Linked DNA regions of Homo sapiens. The protein of the gene in region 1 purifies or fractionates together with the protein of each later gene. This does not show direct contact. Each region holds a gene or a part of one and is shown on either strand. Other genes may lie near its edges. The genes, in order: NEUROG1 and CCDC85C.

Evidence for each region.
Region 2: the proteins of NEUROG1 (region 1) and CCDC85C purify together in Homo sapiens (co-immunoprecipitation; 2 studies listed by BioGRID and IntAct, with this or other methods). This does not show direct contact.

Annotation. Positions count from the first base shown.
Region 1 is NC_000005.10:135,532,961-135,540,743, reverse strand, and holds NEUROG1 (neurogenin-1), read left to right. Parts: upstream 1-4,779; 5' UTR 4,780-5,053; coding exon 5,054-5,767; 3' UTR 5,768-6,462; downstream 6,463-7,783. UniProt on the Homo sapiens protein: Acts as a transcriptional regulator. Involved in the initiation of neuronal differentiation. Activates transcription by binding to the E box (5'-CANNTG-3').
Region 2 is NC_000014.9:99,593,563-99,601,679, forward strand, and holds part of CCDC85C (coiled-coil domain-containing protein 85C), read right to left. Parts: intron 1-8,117. UniProt on the Homo sapiens protein: May play a role in cell-cell adhesion and epithelium development through its interaction with proteins of the beta-catenin family. May play an important role in cortical development, especially in the maintenance of radial glia.

The DNA.
Region 1 (7,783 bases):
CTTTATATTTTTATTTGTTAACCACATTGATTTATTATATGTAAACTTTTATAATTTACCACCATTTCTCCCCTATTTTGGCCTTTATTTAAAAAATAATAATAAACCAAGTCTCTCAAGACCCTGGAAGCATCCAACACCTTGCTGCACCCTGAGAGTCCCTCCCTCTCACCTCTCAAGAAAGCTGTTTCTTCATCAGTGTGTCGATGCCAGAAAGGCCTTCTTGATGATGAAGTAAAATCACATCCCTGCTGGTCCCACCAGAGTCTTGAGTCAGATCCCTAGGGCTGCCTGGAACAGGTATGCCCTTAGAGCTCATCTTAGCTGTCACATAAATGTACTTGACCTGCTTCAAGAGCTGAGGCAAGCACAGGATAGGAGGGTGGTTGCTAATGCAAAATATCGATTCTAGTGTGAATAAATTGGCTCTAGGTATCAGTCAATAGTGACTTTAGCATGTGCTCCAGAGATTCTGATTCCAGGGGTACGGGGTGGGGACCCCCACCATCACTACTACCCCAGGTAACCACAGTGTAAGAAGCTCCAGCTTAATCCTTAGTCCCTTGGAACATCTGCCCCACCTTGGAACATCTGGCTACCCTCCCCTGCCCCCCAGCAGATTGGCAGCTGGATGTCCACACATCAGGCAGAACACCTGGTATGGTGCTCACCATAGCAGCGCCTGCTGTGGTTGGATTTATTACATGCCCACATCACCTTCTATTATACTCTGAGAATGAGGGTACACTCAGGTACTATGCTTAGAAGGCTTCGAGGGGCAGGAGAAACTTTCATCTTCCCTGGCAAGCATGCACATCCTTCTAACTGTGGCCTGGCCTTTTTCTCTTGAGGAGAGGCTCTGGGCCTCTTAAGCTGCCCGTTCATTCTCATCCTGCCAGGGCTCAGTTCCATCCTCAGTAGATCACTTATAGGAGGGCCCCCTGCAGATGCACTTATAAAAAGCACAAGGGGTAGGCACTAACAGCCAAGAAGGAGCCACAACATGCCCTGCCCAAGAGCCAGGAGCAGGCAGGGCAAGGCTTGGATGCTTGCCTGCTCAGCTCTCTAAGGTTCAGGAAAGGGAGTGAAGCATGGCAGGAGAAGGCACAGACCTACTGCTAGCTCATAAGGTGCGTCTGGACATATTTGACAAGGTGCCCTCTCTGAACAGGTGTAGCCCATGTCAGGGTGCATGGTTTGGCGGGTGGTAGAGAGGCTAGATTTCAGCCCTTACTTGCCCCCTCTACCAGATGTCCTTGTACAGTGAATGACTAGAACAATTTTAACAGCCCTGCTCAGAGAAAGAAGCAAGAGGAGGAGATGGAATGGAACAAGGAAGGCTGCCCTGGCCATTCAAGGGCCACCATAACTGCCCCCTTACCCTCTTTCCACTGGGTTCACCCAGAAGCCCTATCCTCCAGACCAGCACCCACATAGCCACTATAGTAACCCCCAGTCCTCTCTTTCCTTAAATTGTCTATTCGCATCCCACCCATCCTTCAAGGCCTTCGCGAGTCCCCCCTCTGCCAAGAAGCCTTCCCTTTGGGAGGTGCACAATGCTCTTCAGATCTGCTCCCTTAATAGGCCCTCGACACCTCTCTAGTCCTAATGCTACATCTCCTCTCCTTTAGGACTATAGGCCTGCTTCACACTCCACAGAGCACCTGACACAGGGCAGCATGCAGTAGGTTCTCCATGTATATTTGTTGATTGACTATGATGGAAGAACATAGAGTAGGGCCTGAAAGGACTCTTGAGTCTGGCCTAGTTTGACCACCAGCGATCCCTGGGGTAACCTGGAAAAAAGACCTCCCCATCTCCCACCTCAGTTTCCCATGTATGAGGTGCAGTGGATAGATGAATAATTTCCAAAGGTTCTGCTGGCACTGAACCCTGGCTTGCAAGACTCAGAGCCCATGATACCCATCAGCCAAGTTTATCACCCCTGTCACCCCAGTGTCCAGCACAGTGCCTGGCCCAGCACAGGCAATCAACATAGCCAATGGATTACTTCAAAATAATACAAGGATAATTCTCTATGCTTCAGCAACCTGAGGATTTAACTTGGTGTTTTATTTATGAAACCGCAGACACTAATCCTGGCTATCTGAAGCAGAAAAGCCCCACTAACGAAAGGCCCGCTATGGGAGGGCTCATGCAATCAGTGGGAAGGCTGGAGAACCAGGCTCAAAAAACAGATGGAACAAGGGCTGGCCCTGGGAAGAGTTCAGACAGGATGTCCACTGGTTCCTGGCCACCTCTTCCACCACTGGTCACTGGCTCTCCCGGGTTGTTGCCATGACACAAGTGAACTCTAGACTGTCACCAGCTCTGAGCCTAAATTGCAAATGGGGCAGCTAACTGCCTGTACTAAAATCTTTTGGCCACACCCTAATTGCTAGGAATGGGGAAGGGGTTCTCATGCATTCAAATTTCTCAACAGGAAAGCTCTTCACGTACCTGTCAGCCAAAAAAGTGACACTGGCCAAACCAATTCTCTCATTCAGGAATTTGGAAAACCATTTGTTGTAGTGGGTTGAAATAGTGGGCCTCCATAAGATATGTCCACCCAGAATCTCAGAATGGGACCTTATTTGGAATAAGCATCTTTGCAGATATAATGAAGGCAAGGGTTGCAAGATTAAATCATCCTGGATTAGCTGGGCCCTAAATCAAATGACAAGTGTCCTTACAAGAGACAGAGAAGGAGAAGACACAGAGAGGAAGGCCGCATGAAGAAAGGAGGCAGAGATTGGAGTGACACAGCTGCCAATCAATGAATGGCCAAGATGGCCAGGAGCCACCACTAGAAGCTGCAAGAGAGGCATGTCACAGATTTTCTCTCAGAGCCTCCGAAAAGGAGCCATCCCTGCCAAAAACTTGCTTACAGACTTCTGGCCTCTTGAACTGTAAGAGAATGAACTTCTGTTGCCTTAAACCCCCTAGTTTGTGGAATTTTGTTGTGGCAGTCCAAAGAAAGGAAGCTGACACAGGGAGAGAAACAGAGGTGGGGGGCAGAGAGAGGACCCTTGGGCTCCTGCTGGTTTACACAAGTCCTCGAAGCCCTTGAGTTCTTGAGAAGCCCCCGTATCCATCCAACAACTGCCCTTTCCTGAGTGAGCTGGTCGAAGCCACTTTCTGTGACTTCTAATAAATCTCGAGCCCTTATATATGACTGTGTCCTAGCCTTCCACTGAGATCAGGGGTACCTGCAGGGTGCAGTCGGGGAAGGGGACAGCTGGGCAGAGTCCCCTGAGCCAGAAGGCAAGCGCTGGTCAGTGAGTCGAGGTGGGAACTGCCACTACACAGCCCCCTTTCTCAAAGGGGCCAATCCCCCCCCAACCCAAAGAGTCAGCTAGGCTCCCATGGCAGCAGGCCAGGCATCCGGCCTGAGGCTACCACTTGGATATCAGGTGGGGGGCAGGCACTTTGCTGAAAGCTGCTCATTTTGTTTTTAATACCCTCATCCTATAATCGAGTGCTGTTCCTTACTATTTATCCTCCAAGTACAAAGTTGGGTGATGTCTGGGCCCCTGTGGCTCCTGGGTGAGTGTAGGTGACAAGAGAAAAGTAACTCCTGACATGCAGAGGGAAGACCTGCTGGAATAGGCGAGTTTAAGACACCGAAGGCGGGAGGGGGTTTGGAGGAAAGGGGTTCCACTGTCACCTGCTGCCCTCCAGGGGCCAGCTCTCTCTCGGGCCAGGGGAGCTGGATCCCCTGGCTGGCTCACCCTGAAGAGGGCCACAGAGGCTGCAAGCAGGGCTCCAAGAGACGGTGTGCAACGGATTTCTCCGGGCATGGGGCAGGCAAGGTTTCAGGAACGCCAAAGAAAAGGAAATTCTCATATTAATAATTATATTCTCATATTATTATTTATATAAATTCTCATATTATTAATTCTTATTAAGAATCTTGAGGTGACTTGTGGGCAGAGGTGCGGAGGAGGGTGGAGAAGGGAAGGGAAAGAAGGGAAGGGTGAGACCAAGACTCAAGGCAACCTGGGAAATCACCCGATCCTCTTTTCCACTCTCCTCTTCGCACTCCCCAGATGAAGGTCAGATTCTTTCCCGTTTCTTCATCAGCCTGAACGGAGCAGCGACACTTATCCTTGCCCTGCGCCCTGTGCCTCTGGCATGGCCACTCTCCAGTCTATTTGAAAATGATTTTCACCCTGTTCAGCGGATGCTGCACATTTAGTGTTCCACAAACATTATATCTGATCATCCTCCACAGGGTAAACTTTTGTCTCATCTTACAGGTGGGGAAAGCAATGCTCAGGGAAGTTAAATTACTCGTCCAAAGTCACGCGACCACTAAGCAGCTGGAGAGGGGATGCGAACCCAAACTCCAAGTACCCTCCAGGTTTCCGCAACTCACTGGGCGGCTCACACTTTCGCGCTCGCGCCCCGCCTCCCCGTCCCACCCCAGCGAGGGGCGCCCAGCCCGCCCCAAGAGGAGCGTGCCTCGGCCGCTAATCGCCCGCCGACCCCGCCTCTGTTTCACTGCCTGGAGACGCCCTGGCCAGCTTAGCCCGAGCCGACTCCCGGGGCCGCGCGACGCCGCCGATTGGCCGGCGGTAATTACGGGCACACTCCGGGTTGGGGGAGGGGCGATGGCGGCCTCCCGCGAGCATAAATTATGCAAATACCCGGGCGCTGCACGGGGATGACCTGCCGCCTCGCTCCATTCACCCGGGCTGCCGCGGGGGCGGAGGTGGCAAGGGAGGGGGGCGCCCATTGTTGCGCCGGGTACTTAAGGGGTCCTGAGGCCAGTCGTGTGCCACACTCGGTGCTCACACGAGCTGATCTGATCGCCGGCGACATCACTCAGGAGACCGGCCGGGCGCGTGGCCCCTGCAGGCGAGGCGAGGAGGCCAGGCCAAGTTCTCCGTGCGCCCCTGCACCCTTCCAGGCTCTCGCACCCGCAACTGGCACAGAGTAACAACCCCAGGCTGTTGGGAACGTAAGTGCGCCCTGGCGGCTCTGCCCTCAGTCCGGGCTGCAGCGCTCTGAGCGCCTTTCTATCTGTCCGTCGGTCCTGCACAGCGCAACGATGCCAGCCCGCCTTGAGACCTGCATCTCCGACCTCGACTGCGCCAGCAGCAGCGGCAGTGACCTATCCGGCTTCCTCACCGACGAGGAAGACTGTGCCAGACTCCAACAGGCAGCCTCCGCTTCGGGGCCGCCCGCGCCGGCCCGCAGGGGCGCGCCCAATATCTCCCGGGCGTCTGAGGTTCCAGGGGCACAGGACGACGAGCAGGAGAGGCGGCGGCGCCGCGGCCGGACGCGGGTCCGCTCCGAGGCGCTGCTGCACTCGCTGCGCAGGAGCCGGCGCGTCAAGGCCAACGATCGCGAGCGCAACCGCATGCACAACTTGAACGCGGCCCTGGACGCACTGCGCAGCGTGCTGCCCTCGTTCCCCGACGACACCAAGCTCACCAAAATCGAGACGCTGCGCTTCGCCTACAACTACATCTGGGCTCTGGCCGAGACACTGCGCCTGGCGGATCAAGGGCTGCCCGGAGGCGGTGCCCGGGAGCGCCTCCTGCCGCCGCAGTGCGTCCCCTGCCTGCCCGGTCCCCCAAGCCCCGCCAGCGACGCGGAGTCCTGGGGCTCAGGTGCCGCCGCCGCCTCCCCGCTCTCTGACCCCAGTAGCCCAGCCGCCTCCGAAGACTTCACCTACCGCCCCGGCGACCCTGTTTTCTCCTTCCCAAGCCTGCCCAAAGACTTGCTCCACACAACGCCCTGTTTCATTCCTTACCACTAGGCCCTTTGTAGACACTGTTACTTTCCCCCTCCCCTAGTCAGCAGGCAATAGATGGGGCCCCAGCTGCCGCCTCGGGACCCCCTCTCCAGGCGGAGGGAGGAAGCGGGAGCTTTAAAGCAGTCGGGGATACCTGAGCCGCTTGTTAGGTCGCCGCACCCTCGCGGCGGATGTCTCTTGGTCTGTTTCTCCGGCCCTCAGCCCAGCGCCCCTCCTGCCCGCCCCTAGACGGCCTTTCCTTTTGCACTTTCTGAACTCCACAAAACCTCCTTTGTGACTGGCTCAGAACTGACCCCAGCCACCACTTCAGTGTGATTTAGAAAAGGGACAGATCAGCCCCTGAAGACGAGGTGAAAAGTCAATTTTACAATTTGTAGAACTCTAATGAAGAAAAACGAGCATGAAAATTCGGTTTGAGCCGGCTGACAATACAATGAAAAGGCTTAAAAAGCAGAGACAAGGAGTGGGCTTCATGCATTATGGATCCCGACCCCCACCACTGCAGACTCGCTCTAGGAAGAACTGGAGACTCTTGCTTAGCTATTCAGGCACAGGGCTGGAGAGTACTTTAATTTATTCAAGATGCTTCATTCATATGAAAATGTATTTTTGTACATAAAGAGTTTATTCTATTATGAGCTATCAAAGTTTACATTTTTGTACTGCAGACGCTTCATGTAAATAAAAACTAAAAATAAGTCGCCAAGTTTCTTGCCTAATATTAGTGTCTCTGGGGCTTTTCTTGCTTTTCCCTGCTGGCTCAACCACTAAAGTGAAACACTATCCCACTCACCTCCAAAGCCTCTGTTCCTGTTTCAAAAACAATTAAAAAATAAAACGCACCTGATTTCCACCAAGAAATGGATAAAGACAGACTAGGGCATTTGGGATCTATCATTCCTTTCACCTTGTAAACACAAGGGAGATCTTTCAGGCTCCCCATAAGCCAATTAAGACTTTTTAGTAGGGAATTAGCCCCGGATCCGCAGCTACCTGTTGAGGTAGGGGCAGTGGGAGAGTCTTTCTTTTGAGGAACTCCACATCAGCTGGCTCTGTGTTTCAAAGAGAGGGGATTAAAAAGATCAATACAGTGTGACCACTGGTTAGGAAGTCCCAGTGACAGGTGGGCCTAGGCTAGGCAAGCAGAAGGGTCCACTCTTATAACAGCCTATTTAGAGGGGGAAATTAATTTGTAAACAATGCCTCCAAATTGTTGTCCATTGAGGCCGAGTTCACCCTGGCTGTGAGGTGTGGGATGAATCATGCTGGTGTGGTGTCCTGAGTGGGGTGTGTAGCTGCCTAAGATTGTGAGCTAGGGTGCCTGCATTCTTCTCAACCCCCATCCCCCCAACACACACACACACACACACTTAACACCCGCTCCGGCCCATAGTGGTGGGGAAGGGGGGGCACACAGAGGGAGGGCTCGGGTGCAGGGCTTGCTCAGCCAGGCCTCAGGGGCAATAGCTAAAGCTTTCATTTGATGCCAGAGAAATCAGCTGCCCAAACTCAGTGGGGATTTTTCTGGCTGCAGTGTGTTTGTCTGTTGTCTGACAATTAGCTAACAGCATCAGCTAGTAGCAGTTTTTGTTTTAAAATTTTAGAATGTGAGTAATTACAAGAGGTAGTTCCTAAAATGCTTTTACTATTTCCTCAGCTCACAAGTTACCCCACATTGTTAAGACCAGATCTCAGCCAGGAATGGTGGCTCATGTCTGTAATCCCAGCACTTTGGGAGGCCCAGGTATGTGGATCACTTGAGCTCAGGAGTTCAAGACTACTGTGGACAACATGCAAAAGTTAGTCAGCATGGTGGTGTGCACCTGTGGTCCCAGCTACCCAGTAGGCTGAGGAGGGAGGATCACCTGAGCCCAGGGAGGTAGAGGCTGCAGTGAGCCCTGATGGCACCACTGCATTCCAACCTGGATGACAGAGTAAGACCCTGTGTCAAAAAAAAAAAAAAAAAAAAAAATCTTTTTTTTCCCCACTGGATTCTTCTTTTCATGAATATAGTGATTT
Region 2 (8,117 bases), on another chromosome or scaffold:
CCTCGCCAAAGCCATCTCTCCGGCGTCTGTGCAGCACAGGTCAGCGAGGGGGCAACACAGGCAGGGCCGTTTACTCCTCACTGCTAACGTGAACTGACACCAGTCTCCCAACCCTGGCCAGCCAGGCTCTGTGGTGCCCAGTGTGGGCGCATCCTCGCCCCTAGCTGGCCTGCTGGAAGGGCCCATGGCTGTTCTCCGGGATCCTGGCTCTGGCCACCCAGCAGAACCTCCAGAGCCTTCACAGCCTCCAATGACACCAGGACCAACTGCACCCATCTCTGGGGCTGGGCACGGGCACTGGTATTTTTTAAAGTTTTCTAAGTGATAGCTAATATACAGCCACAATTAGGAACCACTGGTGAAAGCCAAAAGGTATATATTTTAGTAATTATTCAGGGGAAATGGGGAAGGTGGGGTTGTGTAAATCACCACCCTCTTGGGGAGGTTTGATTTTGCTGGGGGTGGGGGCGGGGGGCGGGGAGTAACTTATTTAACTCGGTGCCAAGTGTACAAATGAGAAAAGAAGGACAGGTGGGCAAAGTGGGTCAACCACTATCTGGCACCTGGTCAGTCCTTCCGGGACTGTTCACTCCTCCCTCCAACACTGACTATGCATTGCAACAACATTCTGGACTGGGAGAGAGACAGGACAGCAAGCAGAGGAACCTCGAGTCCAGGAACATGCAGCCTTGTCCCCAGCAAACCTGCACCAGGAATTGAAGCTCAGTGTTCTCCTCTTGCACTAAACCCCTTACTGAGTCCTTTAAGCAGAGGCAATCAGATAGGGGAGGCAGGTACTTCCACTGGGGCCCTGCAGGAGGGGAGGCTGGTCTGGGCCAGGGTCTCAGCCTCAAACAGCGTTTAGACAGGTCACCATCTCTAGGCCCCACAGTGGGACCCATGTGGTCACAGGTAGCCTCACCATCCCCACACCTGCCCCAAGGCAAGGACCAACCACGAGGCAGGTGATAAAACCCAGGCTGTAGGGCATAGGAAGAGAATTCCCAGGAATATAAAAGAGCTGGCTCATAGGACCACTGAGTGACCGATAGGAGGCAGGATGGGCAGGGGAGGCCACCCCTTCCTTGTGGCTCTGAGTCAAAGGGCCAGAAGAGATGAGGGTCCCTGGGACTCTCAGCTCAGCCCATCCAAGCTTCCTATTTTACAGATGGGAAAATGAGGGCCCAGGGAGAGGCACAGACTTACACATGGTTGGGTCTCAAGTGGGCTGAAGCCACTGGTTCTGTCTGGATCGTCCAATCCACAGAACACTAGTAATCTTCCAAGACCCCCAGGCAGGGAGCATGTCAGCTGACAAGGCCACTCAGGCCCAGCAGGTGATGTGTCTGCATATTTATCAGGTGGGGAGCAGGGGAAAGATGGGGATAAGCTGTAAAAAGTTTCCAGTTTCTAATAGGACTTCTAACAGGTAACTCTGGGTCCTCTTGGAAAGTCCATCAGAAAAGGTTAGAGCTAGAACTGCCCACACCCCGAAGGAAAGCCCAACCTAGGGACTTCAGGGACAGTAGAAGAGGCTTCAAAGACCCCACCGGCCCTGGCCTTGCTCACTGCCCCAGTGCTTGTCCTGGGTCCCCACTCATCCATCACCCCAGCTGAACCCAAGGTGCAGGCAAATGCCCACCGCATGACTTTGCTCGGCTCTTCTTTTTGTTTTGGTTTCGTTTGGTTTTGGTTTTGGTTTGTTTTGTTTTGAGATGAGTCTTGCTCTGTGGCCCAGGCTGGAGTGCAGTGGCGCGATGGCTCACTGCAACCTCTGCCTCCTGGGTTCAAGAGATTCTCCTGCCTACCAAATAGCTGGCATTACAGGCGCGTGCCACCACACCTGGTTAATTTTTGTATTTTTAGTAGAGATGGGGTTTCACTATGTTGGCTAGGCTGGTCTTGAACTCCTGACCTCAGGTGATCCGCCCAGCTCAGCTGTTCTTTCTGCGAAGCCTGGTCTCTCTTCTTACCTGCTCTCTTCTGCTTTTACTAACTCCATCTTCAAGGCCCATCTCAGTTCCCAATTCGGCCACCCCTCCTCTGAGCTCCCAGCACACCTGAAGAGGTTAAGAGCCCAACCTGGGCATTTCCTTGAGGGAAAGGGGCATGATGAATAATCACACCCACAGGGCAAGGGAACCGGGACATACCGGCTGGCACAGGCTCCGGGTTCAACTGGACGGGAGTCCCTGACCTGGCCCAGCCCCACCCTGCCCCTGCTGTAACTTGCCTCACCATCCTGGGCCTGTTCCTTAGATGAAACAGGGACCCCAATGGGGACCAGCAACTGTTGTGGGAGGCGAGTGAGAGAAAACCCAGTTGCTGTCAGCACAGTGCCAGGCACACGTTTGTTCCATCCAAAAGACTTTCAGAACCTGCCACTCTGTGCCAAGGCTGGGAGTCAAGAGGACCAGAGTCCCAGGCTCATAAACTCCCAGATGAAGAGACAGTAATGACAGAGGGCCCCAGGTGGGCAGGGAGGGCTCCAGCACCCATGTGGCTGGCCCTGGGGTGGGCCCCTGTCTTTCTCAAGTCTCTTAGTGCCTTAGGACTCTGTGAAGTTTGCTCAGGGGTTTCCGGCTCTCCCGGGCCTGGCATTTGTTCCACTCTCAGATACCATCAGCCGCAGACACAGTCTACTCAAGGGCTTTTCCAGGGGCAGAGAGGGGAAGACCTGCCAGCAAATGTCCACATGGGTTCTAAGACACGCCCCATATTACAACTGGGAAGGGAAAATGCCCAGCTTTGAACTGAGGAAATGGCAGAATGTCTCTGCCGTTGAGGAATCAGGAAGAAGGAAAGGGAATCAGACCCTCGCTTCCTCCCCAGGGCCATCTACTGTAGTTAAACATGCTCCACGCCTCTGTTTGAACAGTACACATAAGGCAAACCCAAGAACACTTACAGGCAGTCAATACAATCCTGATCTTTCTGCTCTGCTCCCCTCAAGAGCTGGAGGTCAGCGGTGACCTGCTGAAGAACAGGCACCCATCCCCGGCTGACCCGGCTCCAGGCCTGCCCAGAACCCTCTGCCTGTGAGGACAGGGGATGTATGAGTGTCCAATCCTGGGTGCTTGCCTAGGGGAGGGGGACCATTTCTGACATGTTATGATCAAAGAAGCATCAAGTCCCTTTAGCAGACAAGTTTGTTCCTCTATCCCCAAGCCTTTGGGGATGCCAATAGAGTCTCTTGTTGTTATGTAGCAGGGAGATGAGAATTCTGAACCCCAGAGTGGTCCCTGCCTAGATCCCAGACGCTGATCCCAACCACCCTAGATGTAGGGATGGGAGTAGCGGGGAGCAGCATCAGCGCTGGGGATGGAGGGCACAGCAGCCACCTGGGAGCGGCAGCATCTCCCACAGGCGCTGTCCTGCCTGAGCCCCACCCAAGAGCTCAGGACGCCTGCCCTAGAGGACAGAGGTCATGAGAAGGCAGATAGCAGCTGAGAGCAGGACTTTGGAGCAGACTCACCAGGTCTGGAACCTACAGAAGGCTCTCTCCTGTGGCCACTCTCCTGGCCAGAACCTCCTCCCGATGGAAGCCCTCAGCTTCCACCCACTGCTCCCCCAGCCCAGCCCACACCACAGTGGTCACCAGAGTGATGCTCCAGAACCACCACCCCCCAAGCCAGACTCCAAGAATCACTGCTCAGGAGGCACTCAGACCTCAGAGGCAGTAAATGCTCAGTGAAGTCCGCAGACGCTTCCCTTCCTCCTGAAGAGCAAATTACCACCTGTGAGGTCAAGTCCCGCTTCCCACCTGGCTCTGGGTTCAACCAGATTGGATTGAACACACACATTCAAAGCTGGGCATTTTCCCTTCCCAGTTGTAATGTGGGGCGTGTCTTAGAACCCACATCTCAACCAGATTCCCAGAGCTGTCTGGGGTGTCCACAAGCCCCATCCTCAGTGGATTCAGGAATGCCCCTTCTCAGTGTCCACGCAACCTCCCCTGACACAGCGCTCCCCAGCCCTGGAGGCAACACAGGCCACCTGGGCCACTCTTGCTTGTGGGCACTGAAGTCTGAAAAGCTGGGACTTTGGGGTCTGCCCTGTGGGGCTGCCCACAGCACTAACCCCCCTAAGAGTTATCTCCCCACACACATCCTGGGTCCACCTTGCAGGCCCCGGATTCTCAATGCCATGCTCCAGACCCCACTTCCAAACCTTAGCCATTCTTATTCCTGCCTGGAATGCTGGCTCCCTCCATTCAACTAGATGAGGACTCAGCTGCCTCCGACCCTACACTGGGTACCAGCGTGTGTCAGGGGATCTCCCACTCCCACCCAGGGAAGGCAAATCCGCAGAGGCCAGGAAATAATGAAAGGACATGGAACCCATCCTTTAAGGCCCAGTTCTAGGATCGAGACATTATTAGCCTCAGGATATAGATGAAGAAACTGAGGCTTAGAGGTTCAGTAAGCTGCCACGGCCATAAAGCAGGTGGCAAAGCCAAGATTCACCCAGGGCTCTCTGACCCTGGAGGCAGATCACTAACCAGAGGGCTACATGCCCCTCGGCATGCGGGGTGCCGAGCGCTGCAGCGGGAGATGGGGCCTTCGCACATCAGGGGCTGCCACCCGCCAGAGGCTACACGTATCACTCACTACACACCCTCCTCCCTCAACCCAAAGGTTAGTAACATTTTCCCACTTGGCAAAAGAGAAAACAGAGGCCCATGGAGGCTCAGGAACTTGCTTAACAGACTTCCAATTCTCTGCGCAAATGAAGGCAACAAGCATGGATTGGAAAATCCCCACCGGCGGAAAACAGATTAGGAGCAACCACTGATTTCCTTCTGTATCACGTGCTGGTCCTGGGAACTCAGAGGCCAGGCCTGAGCAAGAGGTCTGGTGGGGCGACTGCTGCGGTGGCAAGCCAGCCTCGTGCAGAGAAGTGAGGGAAGGAGAAACCAAGAGATGGGGAGCCACAGCCATCGTAGGGAAGGTGGCCCACCCTGCACCGCCTTCCCCCACTCCTCCATGCCAGGACACAGGGAGACAGGAATGAGGCCCCGGGCCTGGCATCCTGGGAGGAGGTGCCCTGTCTCTGTGGCAGAGGTCACCGCTCCCCTGGAACTCTCTGGGCAGCAGGCACAGGGCCATGGGCTCAGAATTCTGACACAGGAGACCCAAGACGCATCCCAGGCCCCCCAATCAGCCCCACAGGACCTAGAGCAAGTCACCGCACCACCACTCCAAGCCCTGATTTCCCCATCTAAGATATGGAGATGCTAAGGTCTCCCTCCTGGGACCATTTGGAAGCTCTGAACAGAATGGAATTGGGACTGGGATGCTGTTTGTGGCAAACTGTGAAGCACTGGGCACAGTTTACCCACCCCTGGGTCACCTGCCTGGGAGCCTCTCAAGGCCAGCCCTCCTTTCTGAGGCCCAGCATCCCAAGGCCATTGATGGATCCCTTGGGACAGGCTGGGGAAGGAGGGGGAAAGGCTTATCTAACCCACCCCATTGTCTTCACTGACCTTTGTTCCTGAGCTTGGCTGGGTTTAGGAAAAGCAGCCTTATTAGCCGAGCTGCTGCACAGAAAAGACCTATTCAGAGTTAGCGTGCTCTGTCTTTTTCTAAAGGCCCAGACCACCCCGTTCCATCCTCCCTCTTAAACCAACAAAAACACAAGCAGGAGAACAAACCTGTCTCATTTTGAGAAGCTCAAAATTTTAATCCGAACTTTAAAAAGTAAATGGGGCTCATGCACAGGCTTGCTAGAATCCTAGTTCCTCCAGGTTGGCTAAAGGGGAGTGGACCGTGGAGGAGCAGGTTATCAGGGGAGGGAAGGAAATGCCTGGCAATGGGCAGGAGGGGGGCATGGTGCCTGTCGTGGGGCACAGGAGACAGGCGGAGGGGCAGCTGGAAAAAGAACTGAAAATTCTTTTGTTTGAAAATCCTATCAGTTCATGAAGGAGAACCTGACTTTCTGGTGTTGGGGTTTACCTGTCTCAGTGTGCCACACTGGACTAGAGCAACGCACAGCCCAGTCCCAAGTCCAGTCAGCCCAGACCAGACCTCTACCAAAGGCAGCCAAGGCCAGGTGCAGTGGCTCACGTCTGTAATCCCAACACTTTGGGAGGCCAAGGCAGGAGGACTGCTTGAACCCAGGTGTTCGAGACCAGCCTGGGCAACATAGTGAGATCCAGTCTCTACAAAAAATTCAAAAATTATCTGGGCATGGTAGCACACATCCCAGGAGGCCGAGGCAAGAGGATTACTTGAGCCCAGGAGGTTGAGGTTGCCGCGAGCCATGATGGTGCCATTGCACTCTAGCCTGGGTGACCAGAGAGACCCTGTCTCTAAATAAATAATAAATAAATAAATAAGCAGCCAAGGAGAAAAGCCTATTTGCATGTACATACACAATACACAGGCCCACCAGGCCAGCCTCAGCCAGGGCTGCCTTGCATACAGATGGGCCACCTCCCACCTCAGCCACTAGAGTCTGCCCAGGGCACCCAGCAGGGCTGCAACTGCCACCAGCTCCCCAGAAAGGACAGCAGGGCCACTGTCCTCACTAGCTCATCAGCAAGTGCTGCCACACAAGAGGCTCAGATGCAAACATTCAGGTGAGCTGTCTAAGCAGCAAGCACTTTTGAAGAGGAAACTGAGGTCTGTTGGGAGAGCCCCAAGGACCCTAACAACAGGAGAAACCTACTGTGTGTAGATCCTGACCTCACTCAACCTTGTGTGAATAATGGGGCACTCTGGGTTCTGTCCATCTTACAGAAGAGGAGCACAGAGAGGCTTGGCCAGTTAATAACTTGCCCAGTATACATGGAGGAGCTGAGATTCAAACTCAAGTCACCCTGAGCCTCTGGGTAACGGGGTTATCAGCCATCTGCTCAATGGTCACTGATAAGGAAGTGACACTTCCCAGCATGGGAGAAAGAGGGCAAACCTGGGTCAGGAATCAAGAATAGGGAGTCACCAGTGTCCCCTGATTAACAGTAACAGCAAACATGACAACAGACCAAGGGCACAACAGATTCAGACCCAAGGCCTGAACACGAGATGATCATGGCAGCAAACCCACCCAGGACAGGTACTTCCAATGTCAGCCACCTTCCCAGACAAGGCTAGGAACCCCTCTAAGCCTCCACTTGCTTGTCTGTCAAATGGGGATAATACTGCTTCCCCAGGGTTCCTGTGAGAAGAAGCAAAGACCAAACACATAAGGCGCAAGCCTGGTGTCTGACCCCACTTTAGACACCACCCAGACAGAGACTCATTATCTCCCTCAGCTCAGGCCCAATCTTTGCTCAATTTAAAGTTACAAGTCCCAGAATAGAAAAGCCCAGTTTCACCAGGTGAGGTGGCTCATGGCTCTAATCACAGCTACTTGGGAGGCTGAGCTGGGAGGATCACTTAAGCCTGGGAGGTTGAGGCTGTAGTGAGCCATGAGTGTTCCATTGCACTCTAGCCTGGGTGACAGAGTGACACCCTGTCTCGAAAAAAGGGAAAAAAGAAAGAAAGAACAGCTCAGTTTCTAAGAGAAGGGCCTTTCCTGGTTTCCAAGCCTTCCATTTACATTAGTGGGACCACATCCCAAGGCCACACATGGCTTTAAGAGACAAAACTAAATAATAATAATTCCATCTGTAACCGAAATTTGTAATAATAATGCTGAATTTTCATTTCACCCCAAAGCAAGGTTTGCTGCCACAACATTTGCAGCAGTCCTGTGCTAAGTGGGCTTGGGGGAGGATGGGTTCTGTGGGAAACCCTATACTTCAACCTCCCACTGACCCCCAGTGGGGTGGAAAACTCAGTGTAGCCTAGTCCTCCACTCCTGTATTATTCACTGTCGCAGCTGACATGCTGAGCCAGACTGGGGCCGCATCTCCTTGCCCAAAACTCGACAGAGCCTTTCCTGCAAGTATGCTCTAAACACTCCAGCCCTCCAGTGTCCTGCAGAGAGGCACTCTTGCCAAGTGTCATTGATGACGCAGCTGAAAACCAGAAACATTTCACTTTCCAGCCACGAGACTGCAGCAATCTGCTCTTTGGACTGCACTTAGGGAAACCGAGGCCCAGATAACTGACCCCTCAAAAGCCCCCAGGACGGCAAAATCAAAGGGGCTGAGGTGCTCTGAACAGCCCCAG